Regions from separate parts of the Homo sapiens genome. Here all the other regions are linked to region 2. The links come from fine-mapping of genetic effects on gene expression. A gene starts in region 2. Each other region holds a variant in brackets. All regions are shown on one strand. Distances are from middle to middle. Region 1 overlaps HACD4 (3-hydroxyacyl-CoA dehydratase 4). Region 2 holds the start of HACD4 (3-hydroxyacyl-CoA dehydratase 4). Region 3 has its middle 5.0 kb from the start of IFNB1.

The links. PIP is the estimated chance that this variant, and not a neighbour inherited with it, causes the effect.
Region 1: its variant is the best candidate, but not a certain one, in a credible set for the expression of HACD4 in CD4 T cells (BLUEPRINT, PIP 0.73).
Region 3: its variant is the best candidate, but not a certain one, in a credible set for the expression of HACD4 in whole blood (INTERVAL, PIP 0.88).

What each region holds. Positions count from the first base shown.
Region 1 is chr9:21,003,928-21,012,108 of GRCh38, forward strand. It overlaps HACD4 (3-hydroxyacyl-CoA dehydratase 4), which reads right to left. Exons shown (of 7, transcript NM_001010915.5): 5 at 7,662-7,768; 6 at 4,094-4,219; 7 at 1-3,192. The coding sequence ends at 3,110. Among named protein-coding and RNA genes, the nearest start is that of HACD4, 24 kb to the right of the region's middle. The variant T/C (reference allele first, on the strand shown) is at 4,451.
Region 2 is chr9:21,027,979-21,036,166 of GRCh38, forward strand. HACD4 (3-hydroxyacyl-CoA dehydratase 4) reads right to left here and starts at 3,662. Exons shown (of 7, transcript NM_001010915.5): 1 at 3,575-3,662; 2 at 1,317-1,420. The coding sequence starts at 3,612. LOC105375989 (a long non-coding RNA gene) reads left to right here and starts at 3,664. Exons shown (of 3, transcript XR_007061435.1): 1 at 3,664-4,022; 2 at 4,494-4,673; 3 at 5,385-5,941. RefSeq lists a silencer at 3,438-3,797 and an enhancer at 3,441-4,001.
Region 3 is chr9:21,068,819-21,077,006 of GRCh38, forward strand. No RefSeq gene overlaps it. Among named protein-coding and RNA genes, the nearest start is that of IFNB1, 5.0 kb to the right of the region's middle. The variant T/C (reference allele first, on the strand shown) is at 4,677.

The sequences.
Region 1 (8,181 bases), 24 kb before region 2:
GTGTGTCATTATTTTTAAAATTAAAAAGAATACAGAATGGGGCATCATTTGTGTATTTGCTAAAGGTTTACTATTTTCATTAGGGTCTTCTCTTTTGAGATAGAGTCTCACTCTGTCACCCAGGCTGGAGTGCAGTGGCTCAATCTCTGCTCACTGCAACCTCCATCTCCTGGGCTCAAGCGATTCTCATGCCCCCAGCCTCCCGTGTAGCTGGGATTACAGGCATGCGCCACCATGCCTGGCTAATTTTTGTATTTTTAGTAGAAATGGGGTTTCACCATGTTGGCCAGGCTGGTCTTGAACTCCTGACCTCAACTGATCTGCCCACCTCAGCCTCTCATAGTGCTAGGATTACAGGTATGAGCCAGCATGCCTGGCCAGGGTCTTCTTTTAAGGCATCAAAGCCCAAATAACTTACAAGATGTTAACAAATACATGACATTAATGAATACTCTATCAGAGCACTAGGGACTGAATGCTGGTGTCCCCCATTAAATTCACATGTTGAAAATCTAATCTCCAGTGTGATGGCATTTGAAGCTGGAACCTTCATAAATGGGATTAGTACCTTTACAATAAGAAATAAGGGAGAGATGGTTTCTCCCTCCACCATGTGAACATATAGCAAGAAGGCATTCATCTGCAAACCATGAAGAAGAATCAGCTAGCACCTTGGAACCTCATCAGGAACTTAATTGTCTAGCACCTTTATCTTGGACTTCCCTGCCTCCAGAACTGTGAGAAATATATTTGTTGTCTAAGCCACCCAGTTTATGGTATTTTGTTATAGCAGCCAAGCTAAGACAGCAATTAGTACCAAGAAGTGTGGTGATGCTATAACCAATATATAAAGATGTGGAAGCAGCTTTGACGTTAGGTAACAGATAGAAGCTGGAAGAGTTTTGAGGTACTAGAGTACCTGGAAGAGTACTGGAAGAGTTTTGAGGTACTAGTTTTTTTGCTAGAAAAAGCCAGTATTGCCATGAAGGGATTGATAGAGGTGATTTTGGTGAGGGCTCAAAGAGAAGAGGGTGGGAGAGAAAGCCTCCATCTTCATAGAGAACACGTAAATCACCATGAAGATAATGTTGGTAGACATGGACAATAAAGGCCATTCTGATGAAGTCTCAAATGAAAATGAGGAACCTGTTATGGGAAACTGGAAGAAAGGTGATCTTTGTTATAATATGCCAAAGAACTTGGATGATTGTGTTCATGTTCTAGTGTTTTGTGGAAAGTAAAATTGTGAGCCATGAAATTAGATATTGAACTGAAGAGATCTCCAACCAGTGTTGAAGGAGTGCCTCGGTTTATCTTGACTGCTTAAAGTAAAATGTGACAAAAAATGAAGACAGAATTCTTAACAAAAACGGAACCAGAACTTAAAAGATGTGGGAAATTATCAGTCTGTCTGCATTACAAAAAGATAAGAAAACACGTTTGGTAGAGAACACTAAGAGTGTAGCAGACAAGTCATCCAATTAGATTTATGTGGGTGTGAACCACAGACCTAATCAGCCACCCCAGCAGGAACACTGCTAGTTTGTATTGAAAGGAATGGAGATGGGACAGAATGAGGGAAGACTGTTGGACTTCTTGAATTTGGGACCATAGAGCTATTCAGCTGTGAATGTACACTATTCTTCAAGAAAAGGAGAAACTGACCCGGAACAATGATTCAGAGAACATCAGTGGTACCTTCTCAGTTTCAAAAGGGGCAGTCATTGCCTTGGTTTCAACAGGCCTGACAGCTTCCGCCTGGTGATATGGGGGTCATCCTCCTCCAACATAGTCCTGGGGGCAATACCTCTGCCTCACTGGGTCCTGAAGCCAGAGTATCAGGCCAAAGAGGATTATTACTAAGACTGAAGATCTCATGGTGTTTGCCTTGCTAGGTTTTGGACTTGCTGGGGACCCATTACACCTTCCTTTTTTCCTGTTTCTTGCTTTGGGAATAGGAATGTCCACCCTTTGTGTGTCCCACCATTGTACTGTGGAAGCACATAACTTGTTTCATTTCACAAGTTCAAAGCTGGAAAGGAATTTTACCTCAGGATGAATTCTACCTTGAATCTCACCCACATCTGATTTAGACGAGACTTTGGACTTTAGAGTTGATGCAGGAATGAGTTAAGACTTTTGAGGCTGTCGAGATGGAATGTATGTATTTTGCATGTGAGGAGGACATGAATTTTGTAGGACCAGGTACAGAATGCTATGGAGTGAATCTTTGTGTTCCCCCAAAATTCATGTGTTAAGCCCTAACCTCCAATATGATGGTATTTGGAGGTGGGGCCATTGGGAGGTAATTAGATCATGAGGGTAGAGCCCTCATGAATGGGGTTAGTGCCATTATAAGAGACATAAGAGAGTTGATCTCTCTCTCATGTGAGGACAAAGAAGGACATCTATCTGCAAACTGGGAAGAGGGCCCTCACCAGAAACTGCATTAGCTGATGCCTTGATCCTGAGCGGAATTCCCAGCCTCCAGAACTGTGAGAAGCGTTTGCTGTTGTTTAAGCCATTCGGTTTATGGTGTTCTATTATAGCAACCTGAGCTAAGACATAGGGCTTGGAAAGATATTTAATTTTCTAAACATATCTAATGTTTAGGGTGAGTATTATTAGATCTGAAGACAGACATCTGTCTATGAAATATGTTATTCTAGGCAACTGTGGAATATATTTTCCATCCCTCTTCTCCTACAGATCTATTTGGGAACTTGGAAGTGAAAAAGAATACATGTAATTTAGGTTATCAAGTTTGGTTTCTTAATTTAATTGAATCTATTGCAGCTAATCTCCTATTTCTCATTAAACTTACAGGAAAATAATCAGACTTCATACAATGTAAGTATAACTTGTATAAAATCCAAATGAAGCAGGAATTTTGGTGAAGCAGGGTATGGAGAATATATATGTCTTAAAAATACAATGTGTGAAAAACATAGCCTGTTATGTCTAGAGTTTTGGGGGTATGTGCAGTTATTTCATGTAATGGATTTTTATCAAATACAAGGTATTTTTCCACCAGAATACTTCCTGTGTTTTATTTACTGCACTGAATCCACAGCCTGTCTTTTCTCGTGTCACACTGGAATGCTGTACTTCACATCTTCTTTTTTTTAATGGGAAAGATTCCGAGGATGTCTCTTCTTTCTGAGTATAGATGACTGTAGGTAAAATACATACCTAATATGGAGAAAGAAGTTGCAAAAGTAAGTAAGGTTAACTATTTCTCTGGAAGAAACAATGCTTTTAAAATACAGTCAGAGTGCTGCCCAAATCCAGGGAGAAGACACTTGCAAGGGAGATGTGAGAAGGAATGTTTAAAGAAGTGTCCAGATTTTATGCAGAAAGAGAGGTAAATCAAACTCTTCCATCCTACTTTTTTTAATGCAAGGAATTGTCTTCCTTTCTTTAGCATAGCTCTCTCCACCTTCCTCTAAAGTTTCACATTTTTGTCTTTTCTCTCTATATGTTGTTCATATGTTTGATATCTGTTACCTTCTAGAGATAATCATTATTTTGGAGATTTGTGAAGGTTAGAGCTGGGAAAACAAAAATTTAATAGTGAAAGTTTTTTCCCCAATTTCCTGGAAAATGATTAGGTTTAATGATCAAATTTATTCAAGGGTAAGTTTTTGTTCCATACATTTCTCTTGAGTCTGTAACACCGACTCCCATTTGCCTGATAGGAAGTGCCAGCTTGAAAAGCCAAACAAACAAGAAACAAAATGGATATAAATGGAAACATCAGAAATAGCCAATTCTTCTTAGTTTGACATCTAGGTTTTATTTGTAGATACCTGTGCACATGGTCAAAACTTCTATATCTCATACATAATGCAGCTATATTTTCTGATAGTAAAATTGTTCTTATTTGTACAGTGAAAGTGAAATATATGATCCCATGATGCCCTGCAAAAAGCATTATAACCTCCAGGGGCTTTACTAGCAAGATCTAGTTCATGATGTCAGGCTTCCTCTTTGGTCTCTCCCATGTTTACCAACCTGTATATTAAGGTAGACGGCAAGCACTAACCAAAAAGTACAGGAAAAATGCAAAAACAAGACCAAAAAAGCCACTTACCTATAAAGAGCATCATGAGATATATTTTCAGCACATATGGGAAATAGATGGATAAGTCAAAGGGCAGCTTGGTGGAATAAGTGCCAAATGATTCAAAATAAGGCAGCGATTGATAGATGGCAAATGCTGTTAAAAAAGAAAGGCATCATAAAGGTATTCCTCCTTAAGTTGTTACAGGGATGTGTATATATGTCTTCATAGTTGTAGGATATTTTGAATTTGATAATGACAGTTTTGTAATAGTTGCTGAATCTTTTTGCTAAACCTAGTTTAATATAGAAATCTGTGAAATGATTAAGTTGGCAAGGTGCTTACAGCAGTATGACTTGTTGAATGTTTGTCCATGGTATACCTTAT[T/C]GTGCCTACAGAAGAATTTACAATGTTTCTTAAAATGTTATCTCAAAATACATTTGTCCACCTAGCCACAAATAGGGGTGATAGAGAGATGAACTTGGAAAATGGTGCATATATTTTCCTCTTAGAGTTTCACAACACACATTAACATAGTAGAACACATATTAACATTGTGAGAAATTCTGTAATAAAAAAATACCACCTAGCCTTTCCTCAATGTAACTGGCCTTAGAATATCTCCTTCTTCCTTCTTAACCACCAGTAGTATTTAATAAGTATTTTGAAGAACTCTATGAGAAATGCTGGCCTAAATTATTTTGAGGGAGGGGGCTGGTATCAGGTAAAAAAAAGATTAAAGTTCAGTAACATTGTATCCCATGTATAGATATTTTTGGTAACATTTCATGCAATGAAATGTTAATATGCTAACATGATGTAAGATGTTATCATTAGGGTAAGCTGGGTGAAGGGTACATGGGAATGGTGCACTATTTTTGCAATTTCTTATGGGTCAAAATTATCCCTACATAAAAAGTTTTTAAAAAGAGAAAGATGAAGAAAAGGCAAGAGTTCACAACTGTTAGAGCCAAGCAGAGGTATGAGTAGCATCAGTGAAGGATCTGCCACTGACACCAAATATGCAGTTTAAGGTTAACACAGGCCGCACCTATGTCTCTAGCATTTTATCAGTATAATTAGTTGATTTTGTTATTTACATAAGCTTTGTTTTTGTCTTATATCTGTCAGATGGGAAATTATAGTTATTAAAATTATTAAAATTAAAGTTATCGAAAGTTTAGTAGGTTTATTTAACTGCGCAGTTTTATACTTTGGGACATCTAACATATACAGAAACACAGAAAGATAAAATTACAATTATCTGTATTCCACCATCCAGAGCATTATTGACATTTTTGTCATATATATCTCTAGACTATTTTCTGCATATACCTTATTTTGTAATTGCAAGAATAAGTTTATGAAGTTAATAAAAGAATAAGGGTTGTATGGCAACCATATAAGAACATGGCTTTCCTAGAAAAGACAAGGATTAGAATTATGGAATAACAAGAATGCAAAAGTTTCCTATACATTTATCCACCCCTTATTCCTAGGAAGGGATTAGTCATATTTCTACCTTATTCCTTTATATATTCTTTTAAATTTGATTAAGTTTTAATTGGCAAATCATAATTGTATACATATATGAAGCACAATGTGATATTTTGATATATGTGTACAATGTGGAATGATTAAATCAAGCTAATTAACATATCTACCACCTCGCTTACTTTTCGTGGTGAGATTTGAAATGTACTCTTGGCTATTTTGAAATATACATTATTAAGCACAGTCACCCTGCTGTGCACTAGATCTCAAAAATGTATTCCTCCTAACAAACTTTGTACCCTTTGACCAACAGCTCCCAATTTCCTTTCTATATTCTCTACAGTACTATGATTTAACAAAGATAATGTATTTGATATTTCAATGAGAGGTTACTTGATTCTTAAAGAATGGACAATCAGGTTCTTACTGTTTTCAAGACAATTATTCTTTAGATCCACTTGGCATAGTCTATTCCAAAATTAATAATTCTTCCTTTTGAATCAAAACAAATTTAGAAATTCTAACATGATTTACAGTAACAAGCTCTTTTTATCTGCTCATCAGTAGATAGAAAATATGTGTTTTTGTTTTATAACTGGCTTTTATATACTTTGGTTATTGTTAATGTCGTCATCATTTTATGTTAAACACCATGTCCTTATGTTTTTCCCTTAGTTACCTTAACATGCTTTCTTATTTTATGTCTTCAGTTTTGAAAACTTTAATCATGTCTTACAGAATGCTCCTTACCAGTCTACCAAATCCATTGCAGAAGAAAGCATATATTCTCCAAATATCCTCAAGCTCTGCTGACTGATGATCTGAATGATTTGATCTTAAGTTTTAGGTTTATATTTAGGCTATATAATTAGCCTACTCATACTCAATAATTCATTCTGTGTTCATTGAGCATGTATACTGGTGCATAAAAGAGAGGAAGGAAGCAAAGAAACAGACTCAGACATCCTGGTACCCCCCCCCCCCCCAGAGCTTACAGTCTAGTCAAGGAAATGGACATTAATCAAAGAATCATACAAATGTGTAATTATGCTGATATAAGCCCTGTTAAGACAGCAGTCCCCAACCTTTTTGGCACCAGTTACTGGTTTTGTGGAAGACAGTTTTTCCACAGACCAGAGGAAGAAGGATGGTTTCAGGATGGTTCAAGCACACAACATTTATTGTGTACTTTATTTGTATTATTATTACATTGTAAGAACAAAATAATTATACAACTCACCATAATGCAGAATCAGTGGGAGCCCTGAGCTTATTTTCCTGCAACTAGATGGTTTCATCTGGGGGTGATGGGAGACAGTGAAAGATCATCAGGCATTAGATTCTCATAAGGAGCACACAACCTAGATCCCTCACATGCACAGTTCACAACAGGGTTTGTGCTCCAATAAGAATCTGATGCCTCCACTGATCTGACAGGAGGTAGAGCTCAGGCGATAATGTGGGCAATGGTGAGTGGCTATAAATACAGATGAAGCTTCACCTGCTAGCCTACTGCTCACCTCCTGGTATGCGGCCTGGTTCTTAATGGGCCACAGACTGGGATCATGGCCTAGTTTGGGGGCCCCTGCTATAAAAGATTCATGATACTGTACCCAGGGGAACTCAGTTGAGGAAGTCAGGGAATGCCTCCCTCAGAAAATGATGATTAATCTCAAGGTAGAGTTAACTAGTTGCTGAGAGAGGGTAGGATACATAGTAAATGGTAAGTGGGAAAGACTCACCAGAGGGGACTGAATTTCTGTGCATTAAAAGTTAAAAATCATAGAATCTCTAAATGTTAACTTCTTTTTGGTGAATAAGCAGACTCTGAGAGGTTAAATGAGTTACCCAAAACTCACACAGTGAGTTAATGAAGTGAAGGCCTCAGATGCCGTTGCTTTTTGTCCAGTATTTTGTCTACTGTGCAGAGCTGCTTCCCTCTTCAACTTTGCCTCTTTGCATCAAGGGAAATATGCCAGTAAGGATACACTGAGTGAGCTAAGCATTCGCAAAAATAGTAATTTAATCATCAAAAAATTTAGTGAACCATTATAACTAGATGGCTTTTGTCAGTAAGCAATACAGCAAGTCACTCTTTTCTTACCTTCAGCAAGAACACACAAAGGATAAATTGGCATCCATAGTGTTTGACTGAGCCATGTCAAGACAGCATAGGATATTCCTATGACTGATAACATGCTATAAGTGTACCTGAAAGGAGATGAGAAGCTCATAAACATCATTTTCTGCTAATATCTGGGAAATAGGAGAAACTACTGTGTAATTAAATACAGAGATACAACTGGAAAGTGTACAAATTGTATATTTTATTTCCTATAATTTAAGGAAGAGTTTTTTTTAAATGGGGGAAAGGGACCATGTCAATCTGGCTTGTCTCATGTGGTAGATCATTAATAATTATAAAGCTAAACAGAGCAAGTAACTCTTACTCCCTCCTCAGAAAAATACAGTTACAAATTTCCTTGATTAGTGACTTCAATTTCATTAAAAAGCCAAGCTCATTTTTTGCAGCAAGCAGCTAGGTTTTTTAATGACAGACATACTTGTAAATATCTCAGGAATTCATTTAAAAATAAAATGTGACTTCCAAATCTTTATTTGGC
Region 2 (8,188 bases):
ACAAAAATTAGCCAGGCATGGTGGCGGGCACCTGTAATCCCAGCTACTCAGGGAACTGAGGCAGGAGAATCACTTGAACCTGGGAGACAGAGGTTGCAGTGAGGTGACATCGTACCATTGCACTCCAGCCTGGGCGACAAGAGGGAAACTCCATCTCAAAAAAAAAAAAAAAAGAAAAAAGAAAAGAAAAAAAAAGAAAGAAAAGAAAAAGAAATACTTGATGACTAAGGCAACTTTTCTCACTGGAAAGGTGAGACAGCATAAGCCAGTCCATGGCTTGTGTTGCCAATGACATGTAATATGCCTGCACTGCCTCAGCAAACCTCAAAGGGCTAGAAGTGATGGCTTTTTAATAAAAATATAAAAGAAGTTTTCCCATCACCTGTGTTTTCCTGTGCTTGAAAACTCTCAACATTTGTAGTTGAAACTCAAGCTTTAGGTTATATCTTTGGAGGTCCTTAACAAAGGCGAGACTATATCTGTAGATTTTCAGTAAGAAAAAGCAACATAAAATAGCTTATGGGACCCTGCAAGTAGAATAACTTCCTTATGATACACACGTCTGAAATGATGAGCACAGCATGACTTTTCCCAGCTACATTCTAAACATTTGTTTTTAGCTGAAGCCAGCAGTTGCTTAGATTGTCAAGTCACTCAACAGTTGTAAACTGTGAGGACACTTACCCACGTGCGGATGGAACATGAAGAGAATGTTATTTTGATAGTCATTTAGTCACCCAACAGTGACTTTACTTTTCAGGAAACTAGAGGAAGTTTATGACTTAAACCATTAATGCTGACTCCTATATAAGTGGTTAGCCCTCTACAAAGTGTGTCATTTACATATTACTTCTTAAAGGGACCAAATAGAGGCTTGGGGAATATAAAATTTGTATTTCACTTACTAGTAGTCTCCAGTTACCTCAAACCTGGGGAATAATACAAACACTGGAAGAATTTGATTCATTCCTGATTTCTCTGCATAAAATGTTATGCTGAGATTTCCTCAAAACACTAGAAATCTGCTAAGGTTTGGTACAGAATGGAAAAGGAACAATGAAATGATACCACCTCAGTGCCATCCATCTCTTTTTTGAGGCAAACTGCCAACTCAGGGGGAAGCCAAATCCCTTTCCCTTACTTATCCCACCTTCCCCCTTCCCCAAGAAGGTTTTGCAATAAACATGGTTGCTAAAAAATACAAATTTTAGAGAAGGATATTAGAAGGTTGAGGTGTGTAGAAATTTAATATAAGCAGGATGAGGTGAAAACAAGGATTAAAAGTTAAAAATAAAAAAACTGTTTCGGAGTTTTACCTTTTCCAAATGAAAAGAATCTGACTGTCATATTTGTAAATATCCAAGAGTGGCCACAGAACTGGATTAAGTAATAGATGAAAAGATACGCATTCTTCCTATACCTATAAATACAGGAAAATACCATTAAACACTTCTTTTATAATCATCCTTTCATCACTGTACACATGCCCTTTAATGTACTGGCCAACCTGAGAAAGCAAAAGAAAACTGTTTCATATCAGTCTTTTATCTGGTTACCCCCAAGTACATATCAGATTTTGAAGGGAGCCATAACCTACACTACCCGCTAAAGTAAATACAGATGCTTCTTCACTTATGATGAAGTTACGTCCTGGTACACCCCATCAGCTGAAAATATCATAAACTGAAAATATCATAAGTTGAAAATGCATGTAATACAACTGATCTACAGAACATCACAGCTTAGCCTAGTCTACCTTAAACTTGCTCAGAACACCTACATTAGCTTACAGTTGGGTGGAATCATCTGGCAACACAGTGCACTGTGGAGTACCGGTTGTTTACCTTCCTGATCATGCGGCCGACTGGGAGCTGCGGCCTGATGCCGCGGCCCAGCATCATGAAAGGATATCATACCTGCACATCGCTAGCCTGGGGAAAGATTAAAATCCAAAATTTGAAGTACGGTTTCTAATGAATACATATCATTTTCACACCATCACAAAGTTTAAAAAATTGTGAGTCATGGACCATCTGTATAGTGAGTTTGCTTAAAACCAAATATAGTGCTTTTTCAAAATCTGCTTTCATCTTTGATAAAGTTCTAACCTTGCTGCTCACCAAGGAATAAAAGAAACCACTGCGAAGGTGGCTTTGAATATTCTTTAAAAAAACAAAACAGGCTGGGCGCGGTGGCTCAGGCATGTAATCCCAGCACTTTGGGAGGCCAAGGCGGGTTGGATCACTTGAGGCCAGAAGTTCAAGACCAGCCTGGCCAACATGGCAACTTACAAAAAAAAAAAAAAAAAAGCCGGATGTGGTAACGTATGCCTGTAATCCCAGCTACCTAGCTGCTCAGGAGGCTGAGGCAGGACAATCACTTGAACCTGGGAGGTAGAGGCTGCAGTGAACCGAGACAGCGCCACTGCACTCCAGCCTGGGCGACAGATCAAAACTCTGTTCTCAAAAATAAATAAAAAATAAAAAACAAAACAACAACAACAACAAAAAATCCATGTGTGCAGAGTGGTTGACATGTCACTATGTGTTCCAGTAGCTCAGCTTGCTAAGTGCAGAACTTGAGACACAGTGTTTTAGTTCTGAAGGGGGGTAGGGATGGGAGTAATCCAAATGTTGGGTAATTCAGTAATTGGACACACCTGACTTTTGAACACATTATGTGATTGAGGTTAGTATTAACATCTTGCCACTGCCTATTAACATTTTGCAAGGGTAGATAGTTTCCTTCATCAGATACATATCGAAAGCAGTTTAGTTGCTCATACCAGAAGAGGGAAGTCAAGCTGGGTTTAACAATGTGTTGTGAGTTGCTGGGGAGATGACTAAGAGAAGATTGACAGATAGATGGTTTGAGGGAGTTAGGAAAAGCACTGTTTGAAATGTTCCCTGGGAGTTCAGAAGAGTGACGGGAGTGGCCCTGCCAGTGTGGTCAAGATTTACTCCTCCTTGAAGATGTGAAACCTCCTAGAAACAAGGAAAATAAGCTGGGAGGCAGAATGATTTTTATTTGGGGACATCCTCCCCTATAAAGGCAGGAACTGCTAAAGGGTTTGGGAAGAGGAAATCCTCCTTCAGCTTGTATCAGAATTACCTGGCTTGTGGGTTAAACATATACACCCCCAGGCCCTACCGCTATATGACTGAATCTGTTCCCCGCCGGAACTAGGCCCTGAAATCTATACGTGTGATAGGTGTTTCCACGGCTGTTACATCTAAAAATCACCCCGCAACTCTGCGTCTGAGAAAGTCAAGAGAAGGCTCCTGGGGGGAGGGAAGTACTGGCAGAGGGCTCACAAGGGCAGGGGTAGCCATGCAGCCTGTCCTTCCCATTCAACTGTAAAATGGAGAAAATAACAGAGCCTGCTTCCTAGGGTGGTCAAGAGGGGTAAGTTAGCAAATACCTGCATGAGCTCCAAGGGGTGCCTGGGCACGGTAGCGCTGCGCCTTGCTGGCGGGCGGGGGGTGCCGCCCGCCCGCCCGCCGCAGAGGGGAGCTCCCGCCTCCAGGCCCTCCACCCGCGCCCCCTCCCCTCGGGATTCGGCCGAGCGCCCTACCTGGGCTGCAGCCAGGCGGGCAGCGCCAAGGGCCCCATGGGCCGCCGCCGCCAGGGCTTCCAGCGCGGTCCAGGAAGGAGTACCGGGGAGGAGGCAGGGGCGGCCCCGCGGCTGGGCGCGGAAGGGCGGGGCCTCTCCACACTCAGCAGTTTACAAAAAGAAAAAGCCCGAGGTCGTGCGTTGGGGAAGAGATGAAAACGAAGTTCTCGAAGTTTCTGCAGCACTGCTAGAGCGCGTCAGGGCGCAAGGCTGGGAGGCGGCTCGCGTTCCCGGTGGGGTTACCAAACTCTGGTTACAGCTTCCTAATCTTTGTGTTGAGACCCCCTTGCAAGCCTTCTGGAAATTAATGCATCTGGGCGATTTCCGGGGCCTCCGAACTCGCTGAAGCCCATCCCCAAACCTCCCGAGATGAGTGGATTCCAGGGTGGGCTCTGCTCAATGCCCACCGGTGAGCCAGGTTCAGACACGAAGCTTGTGCCGGGCGCAGTGGCTAATGCCTATAATCCCAGCACTTTGGGAGGCCGAGGCGGGAGGATCTTTTGAGCCCAGGAGTTCGAGACCAGCCTGGGCAACATAGCGAAAACGCGTCTCTACTAAATGTACAAAAATTAGTCGGGCATGGTGACGCGGGCCTGTGGTCCCAGCTACTCCAGAGGCTGAGGTGGGAGGATCGCTTGAGCCTGGGAGGTCGAGGCTGCAATGAGCCAAGATCACGCGGCTACACTCCAGCCTGGGTAACAGAGCGAGATCCTGTCTCAAAAAATAAATAAAAATAAAACGAAGTTTGTAGCACACCTCCCCAACACTTTTTCAGCTAGGGGCCTGATTCCTCTTCTATCAGGCCTCCCTGCTCTCTAATCTCCCTTGGGTTCTCACTGGTGCCTGCAAATCTTTATTCACGTTGTGTTAATTTCTCTAGCCTATGCCCAGCACTGCTACAACCCCTTCGTGATCTCTCAGGCTTATGACATCACTGTCTCCGTACACAGATGACCCACCCTCCTGCTTTGCTAATAAGATCCAGCCCATCTTCAAGCTCCTCTGCCCAGAAAGGGAAACGTTAAAACAAAAACAGAAACATCTAAGAAGGCACTTGCAAGTAAGTGGGACAATGGCACCTGGTTTTGGAGTTGGAAGTTAGCGCCCCCATTTTTACCAAAAGGGAAGTTGAGGCATTAAAAAAATGTTAAGTCACTTGGCACAGGTCACACAATTGATAAAATGGCAGTATCAGAACTTCAAGGTTGGTGGGATTTCTTGTTTGTTTCCCATTAGGCCGTGGCTTCCTTTTTTCATAGTCCATTCCATTCACTATGCCTACCTCTCACCTCTACATTTCTCTGCACCTTCTCTCATACCCTGCCCTCAGTCGGAGGTTAACCCCAACTTTGTGTTTACCAGTCCCTTCTCAGACTCACTGCATCAGTAGTTAACCATCGCCTCTTCTTGCATCGTCATCCCCTCCTTTCCATTGGCTTTCACTGCACTTTAGGGACATAGACAACTCTCTCTTAGCATATAATTAAACATTGTATTCTTTCTGTTTCTCTCTCAATGGAATCTTCTAATAACTCCCTGCCTGCCTTCTCTGATCAGGTGCTTCTTTCATTTCCTACCATCTTCCTGTTCCATAATACCTTACAGTTTGACTCTCCTGACACTGCTCCGTCCGCGAGCATGTTAATTTTTCGCCGAATCCCTATCCTGTATCACCTTGCAGGATGATGCCCCACGGTCCTTGCTTTTACAGAACATTTGATCTAAAGGGTAAACTGGTGGCTAACCCATTATCAATGCTATCTCTGATCAGGTTAAGCAGCAAGAGAGAAAGTAAAGTCCCAGATGGCCTGCAGTGGGGCAGGAGGGAGAAGGTGGAAAGCCTGCCCAGAAGAATTGATCCTTTGTCACCAAACACAGCCCCTGCATCCACATCCTCATTGACAGGTCTGCTGCATTTTACCAGTTCTGTCTGTCTGCCATTTACCCCTGAAGTTCTACATATTCTACGTCTCTTGCCTTATGTCCCTTCTGTCTCTCTGGATGGGTCTTCTTCTCCTGCTGTATTTCCTCAAAAGTCTGCCCTTAGTCACCATCCATTTGTCACCATGTTATCCCTCAGCATAGACAACCACACATGGCTTTATCTCCATGTGGACAACTTTTGACTATTATTTTCAGCCCTTTCTTCTTTTATGAATACTATCTCTGGCCTTTGAGCAGCTTTTGGATATTTCCTCATGAAAGTCCTATTGTTTGGACTATCTTTGGAACGTCTTCCAATTCAACCTATTTAAAATAAGCATACTATCTCTCTTCCTAAATCATTATTTCCCACAGAAAGACCACCATTTTTCTAGCCACTTGATTTTAAATTGGGGAGTCATCATTAAGCACCCCATCCAATCAAATTCGATTGATCCCATCCTTTCCAGATCTCCTACTAATCAGTAGTGTTCTTTGTCCATTCCTTATTTTCCAGTACCTGGGTGAGGAGTAATTGGCCTCCCTCACATCCATTCTTTACATCATAACTCAGTTGACTTTCTGGAGCGTCTTGGGTTATATCTTTCTGCTGCACAAAAAGAGGCCCTTTTTAGTTGCCAAAAAAGAACAAGCCAATCAGTCGAAAAATAAAAAATCCTTTCAAATCAAGCAGTTAGCTGATTCTACGTTATTTCCCAAGGAAAGAGTACAAAAAGAGCTTAGGAGAGAACATTTTGTATGAAAAGTGAAATTCTCCCTTTCCCCTGGTCAGTTCCCAGTCCTGCCCACGTCCTGCCAGCATTATCAAGATGGCCTCCCCCAGCCTCCCTGCCTCCAATCTCTTTCCTCCTTCTACCCAGACTGCCATAGATTATTTAAGGATGGCAAAAATATTTCTTAAAACACAGTTCTGATGTAGCCATTCTCCTGGTCTAAATCTTTTGCTGACTCCCCGTTGCCTGCTACAGTATATCTCTTCTTGCCCCTAAACCTGTCACATGCTGACATCTCCTACCATCCTATCCCCTTACCAAAAATCACAGCAACCTGCTGTTCCATGACCACACCAGGCATTCTCTGGCCAATGTGCCTCTGTGAAAAATTTCCCGTCTACTTTTTCTATTCTACCTCCTCCCCTTATCACAGCCCAGTACTTACCTGTCAAAATTCTATTCATTCTTTAAAAGCCTTCCCAAAGATCCCCTCTGGGAGTCACATAGGCTAACGTATGTCTATGTTGGTATTTATCTTAGGGTATTGTTGTTGTCAAGGTACTTGACTATTTAACTAGATTATAGATTCTCAGAGGCTTCTCTCTCACTAACAGTGAGAATTTGACAACTTTTAACCTTTAAAAATGAAGTTTCTTTTGCCAAAAGCACACAGTTATTAGAAAGATCAAATAATAAAATTTATAGATGAAAATGGATAAAAGCCCCTAGTACAGTGCTTGGCATAGTAAGTATCCATAAATATGTTGGATGAATGAATTAAATCTAGTATGAGTTTTCTATTCCCAAAATTTTAACCCAAAACAAAACATTCAGTGATAGTTACATTACTGAAGTATGTATATTCAACTTTCAGTTATCCACTGGTACAGAAGAAGTCAGAGTCCAAGATAACAACTGAATTAATATATTCTAATCTTTAGAAGAAATTTTAAAATTATTCGAACATGTCAATTTTGTTTTCCTTGGGCAAATGCTTCAATTTGTTTTCATCCCAAAGAGCACCATCTGGGAGGCTAAAACCTTGAAATATATTTCATGGCAGTAACAGACTGGCTACAAAATAAATTCTTTTTTATTTTCAGCACCTTGAGTTTTCAGAGGTCACTCCTCTCCCTCAAAGAAAACACAGAATAAAACTCTTTGTGACCTTGGGTTAGGTAGAGATTTCTTAGGTATTTCATCTAAGAAGCCCTCTTAGATAGCTAAGCAAGCATTTCTTAGCTACTTCTGGCCTTCAAAAGACACTTTCAAGTGAGTGAAAAGAAGCTATATAGTAGAAGAAAATATTTAAAAATCGCATAACTAATAAAGAACTTGTTTGCAAATATATACAGAACTCTCAAAACTCAATAATTGGAAGACAATAAACCCCCCCAAAATAGGCAAAAGATTTGAAAACACACATAACCAAGTAAGAGACAAAGAAAGAACATAAAAGTATGGTCAAAATAATTAGTAATTATGGAAATGAAAATAAAACCACAATGAGATATCGCTACACACTGATAAAGATGGCTAAGATGAAAAAGAGTTAACCACCACAAGTGTTAGTGAAGATGTGCCACAATGGGGATTCTCATAAGCAGCTTTATTTTTAATAGCCAAAAACTGAAAACAACCCAAATTTCCATAAACAGATGAATGGATAAATAAATTATGGCATAACTGTACAATGAAATCCAACTCAGCAGTAAAAAGAAGTGAACTACTGATACAAGCAATAACATGGATGAAATTCAAAATAATCAAACTGAATGTCAGAAGCCAGAAAAAAAAAGAATAGATACTGTATGATTCTACTTATTTAAGGCTCTAGAAAGTGGAAACTAATCATCACTGATAGAAGGAAAATAAGTGGCTGTCTGAGGATAGATAGTGAAGAGGAATGAAAAAAGGG
Region 3 (8,188 bases), 41 kb after region 2:
AGCCTGAGATGAAGTCAAGGGTTTTGAATGAAGCAATTTGAAAATGAACCCTTCCTTGTCAACTATTACAGAAAGTATTATAATATAACCCAGGGAGGTTGAGCACTTGCGACTTAATAAACACAATTAAACCATAAGAAATAAGAACAAATTTAGATAAACAGAAAGAAAATGAATTTTTCATGCATACCACATTTATTATTTCAGGGGTGTGGCTTATAGTAGGAAAATAATCCATGGAACTCAAAGGTATATTGGAGTTTAGGAGAGATCCCGTTGCAGCCTGGAGGGGAGGAAGCTGTATTGAATATTGCTTTCCTCCCTTGTGTGGCCTACTCTTCCTTAATAGATGCTAAGGTGCCACATATGCCTGATAGACACCAATTGGTCTAAAGCCAGTTCGCCAAATATAAAATATATCATGCTTTAAACTATTTATAAGGCTTATAACAAATATAATGGAAGAAGTTATTTTAATAACCCTTGAATATTTCTATGGCATTTTATTATTTTAATTTATTTTTTAAATTGACAGATAAAAATGGCATGTATTTATTGCATACAACATGGGGTTTTGAACTATACATACATTGTGAAATGGTTAAATCTAGCTAACAAGTGCATTATCTCACATAGTTATTATTTTTTGTGGTGAAAACACTTAACACCCATTCCCTTAGCATTTTTCAAGAATACAATATATTATCATTAACAATCACCATGCTGTACAATAGATCCTTTGAACTTATTCCTCCTATGTAACTGTAATTTTGTATTTTTTGACCAACATCTCCCCAGCCCTCTCCTGCCCATCCCAACTGTCCCAGCTCTGGCAACCATCATTCCATGCTCTGTTTCCATGGGATTAACATTTTTAGATTTTACATGTAAGTGAGATCCCGTGGTATTTACAAGGCCCTGTGTTGGACCAAGTCATACATCCCATTTTTTGCATTTATTTCTCATAGAAATCTTGAAGAGTTTGGGGTATGATTGTTTCTAATTTATTTAACTTGCCCAAGACCATACTGGTACAAAGTGGCAGAACCCACAGTAGCTCTCAGGTTTGTATTATTTCATGCCCTGTGTTTTTGCCATCAGAGTATAGGAAACTTAAAAAAAAAAAAAAAAAAAAAAAAAAAACTTTGTACTTTCAATGCACAGACTTTCAATTCATGCATTTCTAGATTAGTAAATCATTTTCTGCTTTGAAAGTTATTTGTTTTACCTCTGGACTTTCATAAAAAGAAAATGAGCCAAGAAATTAAAAAGTGAAAGGAAAGAGAAATTTGCTGTGTATTTCCATTAAGTAATGTAAGCCATTTTAGTTTTTAAGCATTCCTGTGAGATAACAAAATCAGCTTGTGTCAGACTTGAGAGGGAAACTGCACACAGGGCTGTCTTGCTAGTACATGGATAAAAATGTAGTGCTCAAGAGAAGGAAATGCAGCCTTGCCAAGGGAAAAACGATGACTCATGATTCAGACAGTTGCTTACAAAAACCTTTGGAGAAAATATTCTCCGTAGAGTCTGGCAAAGGAGCAAATGGGAATTTCCTGCTATTCTCTTTAGAAAAAGGAAGAGAGAGAGAGTTCCCTTCTGCATGGGGATGGAAGGAGACCAACTGCTTGAGTGAGGACAGCAGTCCTTTCTGCAAAAGATCCCCACAGGCCACTGGACGTTAGTGCACCCACTTGGAGCAAAACCAGGAGTTGTGCTGTGCATGAGCTGCCGGGCAGTAGAGCTTCTTGTTCCTTCTCTAAATTGCAATATTTGTGCTATGTAGTTGGGTAAAAATAGCATTTTGGGTGGTAGTAGATGATTACAGGTAGTTAAGAGTATAGTCCCTGGTTCCAAATATGTCTCTGTTCTTTACCTACTGTGGATTTGGTCAAGTTACTTAACCTTACTGAGCCTCAGTTTTCTTATGTATAAAAAGGAGAGAACAATACTTACCTCATAGATGTTCTCTGGATGATTAAATAAGATGGTCTGTCTATCTATCTATCTATCTATCTATCTATCTATCTATCTATCTATCCATCCATCCATCCATCTCTCTAACTATCATCTATCGAGCTAGCTAGCTAGCTAGCTAGTTCATCCTCAGCAGATCCCTTGCAGAAAGTAAGTCCTTAAGAAATGTAGCTGTTATTGTTGTGTTTGCATTGTACTATCATTGCAAATATTTCCATTATGAAGACACAAGTTAAAAATAGTTGCCTTGATGATTTCTCATGAAATTAAATATGGAATTACTGCATGATTCAGCAATTTTATATCTGGGTATATAGCCCAAGAAGTAAAAGCTGGGACATGAATAGATATTTGTATACCCATATTCATAGCAGCATTATTCACAATAGCCAAAAAAAGGAAGCACACTAAGTATGCATCAATGGACCAATGAATAAACTAAATGTGGTACACACACACAAACACACACAGCCTTAAAACAGAAAGAAATTCAGAAACATGCAACAACATAGATGAAACCTGAAGACATTATATTATACTAAGAAGAATAAGCCAGTCACGAAAGGACAAAGTTTATATAATTAGTCATATGAGGTACCAAGAGTAGTCAAATTCATAGAGACAGAAAGTAGAATGGTGGTTACCAGGGGCTTGGAGAAGGACAAATGAAGAGTTGGTGTTTAATGGCTTCAGAGTTGCAAATGAAAAAGATGAAAGAGTTCTGGAGATGAATAGTGGTGATGGTTGCACGACAATATGAATGTACTTAATGTTACAGAACTTAAAATGTAACTTAAAAAAGGTTTAAATGCTACATTTTATGTATATTTTGCCACAATATGAAAATGGGAAAAATCATTTCCTTAAGCACTGGAATTTGTAATATGTAACTTGTATTGCACTTGGTGCAGATATGCAATGTGTGAAGTGCTCTTGGCTTTTCCCCCCATAGTTTTAGCACGCAGGGATCGTGATCCACTTCTTGGACTATCATTTAAAATATGGAGTATTGCAAATGTGCCATAAGTAAAAACTTTTAACAATCTAACCTCTAACTGACAATGAACTTAGACTGTAAGATAATTTTTTATTTCTAAGAGCCTGTTGATTTAATCTCATCTTGGAGTCTTATAAAAGAGATCTTAAGACATCAAACAATGTATGTTGAGTTTAACAAGGGAACACAACAAGATGCTTTGGCTCCATTTTATTTATTTTTCAGTAAATTTATACTTTTTTATTTTTCGAGAGGTTTCAGTGAAGTACAATGACATGTAATAAACTGTACATATTTAAAGTGGACACTGTGATAAGTTTTAACATGTATATACACCCCTGAAACCATCAACACAGTCAAGATAGTGAAAATGTCCTTGCGCTCTCAAAAGTTTCTTTGTGTTGCTTTGTAATCTCTCCCTCCATCTCACTCCTCAGTACTACTGCCCCCACCCCCAGGTAACCACTAATCTGCTTTCTGTCATTATAGATTAATTTTCCTTTCTAGAGTTTTATAGAAATAGGCCAATACAAAATTTATTCCTTTTTGGTCTCTTTTCTTTTCTTTTTTTTTTTGAGATGGAGTCTCGCCCTGTCACCCAGGCTGGAGTGCATTGGTACAATCTCCGCTCACTACAACCTCCGCCTCCTGGGTTCAAGTGACTCTCCCGCCTTGGCCTCCCGAATAGCTCGGATTACAGGCAATCGCTATCCTGCCCTCTAATTTTTGTATTTTTACAGAGATGGGGTTTCACCATGTTGTCCAGGCTGGTCTTGAACTCCTGACCTCAGGGGATCTGCCTGCCTCAGCCTTCCAAAGTGCTGGGATTATAGGCATAGCCACTGTGCCTGGCCCTTTTGTATTCAGCATAATTTTTTTGGAGATTCATCCATGTTATTGTGTGTATCAATGATTCATTCCTTTTTATTGTTGAATAATATTCCATTGTATGGATATACTACAATTTCTTTAATCATCCATTTGTGATGGACAAACAAAGCTCCCACAAACATTCATATACAAGTCTGTGTATATGAATGTTTATACACAGAAAAGAATCCTTTCTTTTCTCTTGGATAAGTACTAGGGAGTCGACTGGTTGGATCATGTGGTAGGTATATGATTACCTTTTTTAAAAACTGCAAAAATGGTTTTCCAAAGTCATTGGACCACTTTTTGAAAGTTCTAGTTGCTCCACATCTTTGCCAATCCTTGATATGGTGAGTCCTTTTAACTTCAGCCATTCTAATAAGTATGTAGCAGTGTCTTATTGTTGTTTAATTTGCATTACATTAAAGGTTAACGTTATTGGTCCTTTCCTGTCTTGTTTGCCATCTCTGTACCTTCTTTCCTGAAATATGTGTTGAAATCTTCTGTTTGTCTTTTAGTGGGTTATTTGCTTTCTTATCACTGAATCTTGAGAATTCTTTACATATCAATACAACTTCTTTATCAGAGAGGTGACTTGCAAATATATTCTCTCAGTCTGTGACCTGTCTTTTAATCCTCTTAAGAGAGTCCTTTGAAGTGGGCTCCATTTTTTTAAAAATTCGTAGGCTAATTGTTGGGGGATATAATTTGAATAATGCGTTATAGGTTTTCTAGGAACACCCTCTACATGAATGTCAAAACAGAATAATAACTGAAACATAATTGTCTGATTTGGTGATAACTATGATGTGAACATGTTTTTGGAGTACTC[T/C]CCATCAGGTCAATTAACGAGTTAAATGGTTAAATGGATCCTACTAAATTAGGAGAGTATAATTTTGTGCTGGCACTACTAGTCCAATTTTTGAGTTTGTCTTAAACTATCCTAGTAAATTTTAGGCAATTAAACTAATGTTTAAAAAGCAACAATTAATGTTGAGAACAAAAGGACTCATAAAACAGTTCATTTTTTAGGCTCAGCAAGCACCAGTGCAATGTGTTTAGAGAAAATGTCTGCAGTCAACAAGGTATGGCTCTGGGTGACATTCATCTTCTGACTCTATTACCAGATGCTGGCTCTCTCTGTGTTTCCCACAGCCAAACCCGTCAAGAAGAAATCCATGTTGATGAGGGCCCCCACAGTCTGTGCTTGGCAGACCTCTCATGCATCAGAAATAGAGCTTGGCCAAGAGGGCTGGTGAACTTTGCTCAGAAAGGACAGAAGCTATGGCAGGTCCCCATGATGGAAAGGGCTCCCCTGGGACCAAATCATTTCACATTCATTATCTGACCTACACCACCAACAATCCTTGAGAAAGATTTTACCATGTTAATATACTAATTTGCTATTTGCATGTCTTCTTTGATGAAGCATCTGTTCCAATATATTATCCATTTTTATTATTTTATTTATTATGTATTTTATTGTTTTATTAGTGGTTTTGTTATTATTGAGTTTTCAGAGATTTTAAAAAGTATATTCTGGAGATGAGTCTTCTATCAGATATGTGATTTGCAAATACTTTCTCCCAGTCTGTGGCATGTTCTTTTCATTTTCTTAAGAGTATTTTATGAATAAGTTCCTGATCAGATGTTATCTGAATACTTGAACGTGTTTAATGCCACCTAAAATGCCTAAATAACACCTTTGTTGACTGCAAAAAAGACTATACAAATGTGTGCTGATATTGCCCTGCATCTGCATGTTCATATATTTAAGCAAAATTCATATATTTGTATGTAACCCAGATGTTCACCAGTGCCTTCTTACTGTTCAAGAGCTAGATAAGACAGTTCCATCTCCTAATCCAGCTTTGTGGATTCCTAAGGTGTGATATGGGAAGGGGGAAGGTGGCTGTGTTGTCATTGTTTTGCCTCCTGTTTCTTCTAATTTGGTTCATCTATGAAGATCTGGCCACCCCATGTTTGTTCAAACATGAGACCGGGCACTTTCTATGATTTGTACACAGAGGTTTTACGCAGAGGACTTTTTGTGGTAGCCATTTTTATTGAAGTTTTGGAGATGATGTCGGACAGAGTTTCAATACATCAGCGCACACAATTTCATGCTGCACATGAGCTACGCTGTTTGGAAAATTCTTTTTTCATTCCCACCAGCAAAATTTTCATTGTCTGACTTGTTCCACGTAGTGTCACAGTTCCAGAGCTTTGGGGGATTTCTGTCTGTCTCCTTTCTCCTTAAAAGCTGACACACAAAACATGCTATTGATATTTTACTGTCTTTTCCGTTGCCACACCCATAACCTCAAAATCTCACTAGATATTGAGTGAAGCCTCATTAGATATTTTTCTACAGACTCATTAGATATTTTTCTAAACAAAGAGTGTTTTCCTTAAGACCTTATTCTGGTGCCAGCCAAAGTAATATTATTATTTTACTTTATTCCTCATGCCTAGTCATCGGTTCAGCACATGCAAATGTGCACCTTTGGGCTAGTTGCCTTCATTTTTATTGGAATTAATTTTAATTGTTACTTATCTTCTACTGGTTATGGACTTATTTTTGGCATTCTGGATGGGTTGACATGCTAAGCTGTGATACAGTATTTCTAATTCTGCAGAAGTGGCCTCTCTCCTGTCATTCTTGCCCCAACACGGAGGTAGAGCAGGTCTTTTCAAGAACTTGCCAGTTTCTGGGCCAGTTTAGCAGTTCAGCTCAGAGAAAGCAGTGGACAATAGGGGCCCATTGCTGAGAGAGATTTCTTTAGTTTCCTCTTGGCTGCTCTAGACACTGCCTGGACTCCGCATTGCTACTTGCTGATCTTGTCCTTGACTCCAGGAAAAAGAGGAGTTCGGCTACAGAAGGGCTTTTGGCAGAGCAGGGGTGGAGAGCTGGGGGAAGGATGAAGCTTGAGGGGGGCTTGACTGGTTTGAGTCAATGGCAGCAGGCCCCCCATGATGACATTTCTTGTTTGCATAGCCCGTGTGTGTGTTATCCACTTTGAACTGGAAGGGGGAGCCCTGAGTTCATTGTCTACACAATAGTAGCTTCTCTGGAACTCTTAATGAACAGATTACTTCTCCTGAAAGCTGCTTCTTTTAAAAGGAATTCAGATTTCTTTACTGCTCTAGGAAAAAATGCCTAGATACAAATAAAGACTTTTATGATGCTTCTCTTTGAACTTCTTTTTAAAATCTCCATTCACTAGAGACTGAATGAAATCATTATGTGACCATGGGCAGTTACTAAATTTCTTTGAGATTTAGTTTCCTCTCCTGTAAAATGGCAATAATGTACTTGTGCCTACCTGAGGGGTGCTTGTGGAGAAGATTAAATCCGATTATCTATGTGGGATCTCAGCACAGTGCCTATTTCATTAGAATTTCTCAGTAAACAGCAACTGCTAATGGCAGTAATAGCCACTATAACCCAAGTTCCCGAGTTTTGGTACAAAGACAAAAACCTAACCAGTCAGTCCATGCTGACCAGGTGCCCAAAGAGCTCCTAGAAAAGCTTGATTTTTTTCCCGGTGTAAGCCCTGGGAAAAATTAATGCCCTCTCTATCCCACCTAAACTTCCCTTTCTCCTATGTTTCCTGGCTTTTTGCTTGGTTTGAAACTGGACTTAAACTGCTGCACCTCTTTCATTTGGCTTTAGGAACTATGTGGCGTCCGCAATGCAGAGCAACAGAAAACTGGACAGGACATTCCTGGAATTCTGTATGAACAAGGCAGTGGGGACTGGAAGCAGGCTTAGTTTTTTGAAAAACTAGGGAGAAAACTAACCAGATGGCTAGGGTATAAAAAGGTTCTTCTTCCTCTGATGCCTGTGCCATGCCAGCAGACAGGGACCCACAGCTCCCCTAAGATACCCACACATCTTGGCTGTCCCATGATGAGCAGAATAAAGAGATTGCTGCTTAATAGTGTCATGGAAGTAAATGGGACTTCTCACCCTTAAGCTTGCAGGGATGGTGGGGGGCACATAATTATTTAAAAATCTTTCGAGGAGCAAAGTATCCCCCAAATAACGTGGGAAGGTTAGGGAGAACACAAAAGCTGACATATTCCTCTGGCTATTCCTGATGGCCAGCTCAATTCTAACTTTATGATGAGAGAATCTGGAGCACACAGTAGGAGGAATGGGAACCCCAGGTTTAGTTCCAGACCCTCCAGCTTTCCTTTTCTCTTTTAATCCCACAGCAGTTCATGCCATATTTATTCCCCCATAAGGTTCAGGTCCCCTTATTGTCTCTTACCTTATATATTCCACATGGCTTTCTTGAATTTTAAATTCCTTAAAGGCAGGGGCCAGAAAGTATACTA